2 linked regions of the Homo sapiens genome follow. The protein of the gene in region 1 purifies or fractionates together with the protein of each later gene. This does not show direct contact. Each region holds a gene or a part of one and is shown on either strand. Other genes may lie near its edges. The genes, in order: ZNF501 and MRRF.

The links.
Region 2: the proteins of ZNF501 (region 1) and MRRF purify together in Homo sapiens (affinity purification with mass spectrometry; one large-scale study listed by BioGRID and IntAct). This does not show direct contact.

Annotation. Positions count from the first base shown.
Region 1 is NC_000003.12:44,734,898-44,737,699, reverse strand, and holds the end of ZNF501 (zinc finger protein 501), read right to left. Parts: coding exon 2,463-2,802; 3' UTR 617-2,462; downstream 1-616. UniProt on the Homo sapiens protein: May be involved in transcriptional regulation. Essential for Golgi structural integrity.
Region 2 is NC_000009.12:122,327,086-122,330,912, forward strand, and holds part of MRRF (ribosome-recycling factor, mitochondrial isoform 1 precursor), read left to right. Parts: 3' UTR 1-3,827. UniProt on the Homo sapiens protein: Responsible for the disassembly of ribosomes from messenger RNA at the termination of mitochondrial protein biosynthesis. Acts in collaboration with GFM2. Promotes mitochondrial ribosome recycling by dissolution of intersubunit contacts.

The sequences.
Region 1 (2,802 bases):
TGGGGTGAGTTGGAAATTCAAAAAAAATTTTTTGGTACCAAAGAATTGTTGAGCAATTGTTTATTTGCTTTACTGAGCACACCTCTCATCCATTGTTAGTGGATTAACTAAACATCTGGGAGGTCACACTCTCTATCAAAGCTACCAAGGCACATACTTCTTCTTCTTCTTTTTTTTTTTTTTAAGACGTAGTCTTGCTCTGTCGCCCAGGCTGGAGTGCAGTGGTGCAATCTCAGCTCATTGCAACCTTCATCTCCCAGGTTCAAGCAATTTCTCCTGCCTCGGCCTCCTGAGTAGCTGGGACTACAGGTGCCCTCCATCATGCTGGCTAATTATTTTTGTATTTTTAGTAGAGGTGGGGTTTCACTATGTTGACCAGGCTGGTCTCGAACTCCTGACCTCAAATGATCCACCCACCTCGGCCTCCCAAAGTGCTGGGATTACAGGCATGAGCCACTGTGCCCAGCCTGAGAATTACCTTATAAATATCTTGCACATGTGCCTAAAGACAAGGATGCTGTATATGCAGTTTTGCTTACAACAGAAAAATAAAAGCCATTAAGTGTCCACCAATAGGGAACTAATAATGGTCTATTAAGACAATGACACACTGGGCAAGGGTGGGGGAAAGATCTTTATTTACTGATACAGAACAATCTGTGAGATGGTTTAGTCTTTAAAAAATGGACAACTGTGTATATTATGCTACCATTTCTTTAAAAAAAGAAAAAAGAAAAAAAAAGTAAAGAGAAGGAATCAAGGATTGAGAAAATAAGCCACAGCCTGGGAGGAAAATATTTGCAAAAGACCTATCTGATAAAGGTCTGTTATACAAAATATACAAGGAACACTTAAAATTCAACAATAAGAAAATGAGCAATCCAATTAAAAATGGGCAAAACCTCTAACAGATACCTCACCAAAGCTATACAGATGGCAAACATATGAAAAGATGCTAAATTCATATATTATTGGTGAACTGCAGATTAAAACAATTAATACCACTACATACCTATTAGAATAGTTAAAATCCGACCAGATGTGGTGACTCACACCTGTAATCCCAGCACTTTGGGAGGCTGAGGCAGGCGGATCACTTGAGGTCAGGAGTTCGACACCCACCTGGCCACCTGTGTCTGGTTTTCACAGATTTGGCATCTCACACCAACAGGAAGGTTCAATGGTGGGAAATTACCTGTATGTGACTTTGGTATTATATAAACCAGAACTGCAAATCTATAAAGATATAGATTTGAGATTCAATTCTGACATTACCTGCTTGACTTTGAGCAAGTCAAACATCTTCTCTTTTTCCTTGACTCTAGGATGTGAATAGTAACTCCTACCTTTCTTGCAAGGGTGCTTTTAGCGTTAGAGGTGCTTGTTTACATTAAAAGGCTTAGCATAGCCTAAAGCTCCATCAAAAGTATTCTTTGATTTCTTTGCTTTTTCATGGCTTTTAATGAGCCATTAGGCACTCCAACCCATCAGCATCCCCAAGACACTGTTCTCTCCTTCCTCTGACAAGTGGCTAGTTGTTAGTCAGTGGCATCAGTTGCTGGAACCTGGGATCTTAACATCTTCTACCCTCATCTTCCCTTAAGAGACCACATTTGGTGCTGTGCTCCTAGAACTCAAAACAAATACAGCCACATCCTCATCTACATGCTTATATTCTCCTCTATATTCCAGTCCTCTCTACTGTCATATGCCTTCTCCTAATCACCTGCTGCCAACCCTAAACACACACAGAAGTCCCACAACATGAGGTTTTATTCAGTTAATGTCAGGGAGGCTTTCCGTTTAATGGAAAAGTGAAACTTAGAGCTTAAAATCAAATTAGATCTAGTAATAGAAAGTATCAAAATTTAAATGAAGATCTTGAGGGTATCCAGAAATACACCCCACAATGTCCACTCAAATCCCAATCAGTACATTTTTCTCTGATTAAATCTGAAATTTCTCAAGGACAAACCAGTCTTAGATTGTATTATCCTATTTAAACCAAGACATTATAGTTTAAATAGACGTCTGTAGATCATAAAATCATAGCCCAATTACAAAATGTTCTTAAGAAACAATACATTATGAGAACCAAACAACAATGCTGATTTACTTGTCAGATTTTGATATTGTAAATAAACTTTTAGAACGGCTAATTAATTAATGGCAGTTAACTGTCACACAGAACTCATTTTATTCTCAGGACAACCCTAGGAAATATCCCCATTTTTCTATTGGGGGGAATGGGGAAACTGAGGCTCAGAAGGGATAAGGTTACACCCACTGAGCAGCAGATAAGGCATCAAACTCCAGACTAGGACACATTAGGACACAACATTTCTTGTTCAAAATACAAAATATTCATACTAGCTACAGATTGAGTCTTACATTCCTAGGAATTTAGGAGAAAAAAAAGGTGCTTCCATACAAATCTTCCCATACTCATTATATTCCAAATTTTACTCTCCAGCATGAAGCCTCTGATGTCGAAGAAGTGCTGAACTGTGCCTAAAGGATTTCCCACATCCAACACACTCATAAGGTTTTTCTCCAGTATGAATTCTGTAATGCTCACTAAGGTGTGCTTGTTTGCGGAAAGTTTTTTCACACTCACTACACTTATAAAGTTTCTCTCCAGTGTGAGTCCTTTCATGTTCAACAAGGGAAGAGTTCTGAGTGAAGGCTTTACCACATTCAGTGCATGTGTAGGGCTTCTCTCCTGAATGAATTCTCTGATGCTGCATGAGACATGCACTCTGATTAAAGGCTTTCCCACATTCATTACACTTAAAAGGTTTA
Region 2 (3,827 bases), on another chromosome or scaffold:
AATTAATGACTGCAAGTAAAATAGCATAGTACCTGGCACATTGTAAACACCAAAGAAATGGTAGCTCTTATGGAGACAGTAAAGATTACATATTAATCCCCCACCTGTTTGGCCAACTTCTCTAGAATATGTCAGAGAGCAAGCAAAATGTTCACCAAGCAGTGAATAATGATAATAATAACAACAATAACAGTATTGACAGATCAGTAACTAATATTTGCTTGGTGCTTTTTAGTTTTCAAACTGCTTCTACATTCTTTGTTGCATTGAAACCACTCAGTGAAACTTTGCGGTTAGACAAAGAGTGATCATAAAAGCTTGTATCCTCAAAAGCCACTTTGAGGCTTTCTTTTGCCCTAATAGACGGTCATTTTTCATGATGTGCATTTGAAATGATATGTTCCCTATTTTGGGGGTACAAATTTTGATATGTATGCAGGAAATGTAGCTTATAGAGTATGTTGTTTAGGTTTTCCATTATTTTTTGACCCTTTGATGAGTCTTGGACTGAAAGTGGTGTGTTTCAGACCCCTGCTATTAACATTTCTGTTCCTTCTTGCATTTTCTGCTTTATGAAAATGGATTCTGCTTTGTGAAAGTACTGCTGTGTTGTTTTATACATAGCGCTCCAGACGCTTACATCTTCTTTATTTCATTCAGTGCTCTTAGTCTGAATTTTATCTTGTTGTATATCAGGATTACAGCTCTTGCTTGCTTTTTGTTTACATTTGCTTTCCCCATTTCTTGATTTTTAAGCTTTCAGAATCACTATTTTAGGTGTTTCTTTTTTTTTTTGGAATTGGGTTTTGTTCGATGAACCATTCTGAAACTCCTTTTTTCTTATTTTTATTTTTAATTGTAAAATATACATAAAATTTACTCTCTTAACCATGTTTTTTTTTTAGACAGGGTCTTGCTCTGTCACTCAGGCTGGATTTCAGTGGCATGATCTCAGCTCACTGTAGCCTTGACAACCTGGGCTGAAGCAATCCTCCCACCTCAGCCTCCTGAGTAGCTGGGATTACAGCCACGTGCACCGCCACACCTGGCTAACTTTTAAAATTATTTGTAGAGACAAGGTCTTGGCTATGTTGCCCAGGCTGATCTCAAACTCCTGAGCTCAGGTGATTCTCCTACCTTGGCCTCCCAAAGTGCTGGGATTACAGGCTTGAGCTTCTGTGCCCAGCCTTAACCATTTTAAGTGTACAGTTCAGTAGCATTTAGTACATTTACATTGTTGTACAACCATCCTCCAGAACTCTTTACCATGCAGAACTGACGCTCTATACCCATTACACAACCCCAGTTCCCCCTTCTCAGCCCCCAGCAACCACCATTTATGAATTTATAAATTTGATTAGGAACATCATGTTAAGTGGAATCATACAGGATTTGTCTTTTTGTGACTAGTTTATTTCACTGAAGCATGATGTCCTTAAAGTATATCCATATTGTAGCATGTATCAGAATTTCCTTTCTAAGGCTGAGTAATCTGTTGTATATATGAATAAGTATATATAAAGCTCCTTTTAACAGACACTTAAATTCATTTACATTTATTTATAATAGTGATATGTTTAGTAGAACCCATTTACTTTTTCTTTATTTTCAGTATTAACATAAGTGATTTGGTGTTTTAGCCCTAAGCAGATAAAGGATTAGAGATTAGAATGAGGAAGAGGGTTGCTTCACATAGACGAAGTTCAGTTTTTGTGGAATAAACAAATAAGTGATTATCTCTGTCTGCCTCTTTGTCTCTCTCTCTCTCTCTTTTTTTTTTAATAAGAGATGAGGGGTCTCCCTATGTTGCCCAGGCTGGACTTGAACTCCTGGGTTCAAGTGATCCTGGAACTGCAGATATGCACAGCTGTGCCCGAAGATCCCTTTCTCTTACATTCCTTTCTTCTGGTCTGTGTTTCAGTCCATCCTACGCTGTTAAGTTAGAACAACCTGAAACAGCTTTTATCATGTCACTCTTCTCTCAGAAACCTTCATTGGTTCCCTGTTGCCTGCTGAATTATGTAAACTCTTCACCCTGGCATTCAGTAACTTCTGCAATCTGGGCCTGATGTATTCCTTTAATTGTGATGCATCTCTTACAACTACCCTGATACCACCAGTGCTTAAGCGAAACGGAATTATTAGCTTTTCTGAAAGCTAATAATTTTGTGCTGCTTTCTCTCACCTTCAAGCCTTTTCTTAGGCTATTTTCTTTGCCTAGTGTATGCTCCCTTAAACCACTTCCCCACCAGCAGGCAAAACTTACCTAGTCTTATAAGCCCTTCTTGGTCCCATGTTCTTCCTTACACTAACTCATTCATTCATTATCCATCCCGATGCTTCTCCTGATTCATTCATTCATTATCCATACCGATGCCTCTCCTGATCCCTAAACCTGCCTATGCCTATTAAGCGCTTGGATTTGCCTCAAGCATCTGACGTTCAGCTACCCACCTGCGTTTCCTCTCTCAGGAAAAGCCTCACCATCCACCCAGGTGCCAAGCCAGGACACTGGGAGCCACTTTTGCCTCCCTGTCCCTCTCCCCTCATCCAATAAGTCACCAAGTCCTGTCAATTCTCCCTTCAACAGACCTTTCCTTTCCTTCCTGGGCACACCCTTGAGTGGTGCTCACCAGGGAACAGATGTGGCAAATGTTCCAGGCTGGCCTCACCCGGGTCTCTAGACACTTGGCTCAGAGGCAGAACATGGCTAACCCTAGATAAGCCTTGTGTGAATTCCTGGCAAGAAAGTCCCCTGCTGTCTTAGTCTGTGCATTCTCTGACTAGCACAGTATGTGGCGAGAGCAGGTGTTGAGGAAATGTTTGTCTAATTCTAAGGGGCCTGCCAGGCCTTGATACAAATGGCGTCACATTTACATGAATAACCCAGAGTTTCTCTAATTATCCTCACCTGCCTGCCCAGGACCTTCAACCTCATCTGCTAAGTCGGCCTCAGGCGTTTCTAGACATCTTAAGGGACCGCATGGCATCCAAGGCCACTGGCATCTACTGTACTCCCCTCCCACCGGCGCTTCCCTTTGCTAGCATCTGCAGCCACAAGTGACACTTAAGGGAGATTTACCTCCACTACTGGGAGTGTTAGTGTCTGTGACAAAAGTGCTGGTTGCTGGGCTGAGGGGGTCTGAGCATGCTGGGTGGAAGCCCTGAAGAGGAAGGGAGAAGGTCTCTGCCCACATCCCACATTTGCCGTGCATCCCTGAGTTCCAAAGCAGCCTCGCTAGGCTCTAGAGCCCCTAAATCTCCAAAGACAGCAGCTCCTCCGCGAGCTAGCTGCCCCTGACCGAGGCTCACAGCTTGCCTAGGGGAGGGCAGGGCAAAAGTCCCTGCTATTCTCTTCCTTTCCTGGCTCAGGCCTTGATCCAAATAGCTCCCTTCTTCCAAGACACTACTCCCCAGGCCTCCTCTTCCTGATAATAATAGTGGCTAACAAGTTTTACTAGATTTTAGGCAACTCAAGGAGCTAGCTGTTATTTTGTTCATTCTACAAGTGAGGAAGGAAGCACAGACAGTGGTTAAGTTACATGTCCAGAGACACACAGAGGGCCTAGTGCAGTAGCTCATGCCTGGAATCTCAGCACTTTGGGTGGCTGAGGTGGGCGAGTCACTTGAGGTCAGGAGTTCGGGACCAGCCTGGCCAACGTGGTGAAACCCCATCTCTACTAAAAATAAAAAATTTAGCCAGGTGTGGTGGCGGGCGCCTGTAATCCCAGCTACTTCGGAGGCTGAAGCAGGAGAATCACTTGAACCCAGGAGGCAGAGGTTGCAGTGAGCCAAGATTGCACCACTGCACTGCAGCATGGGCAACA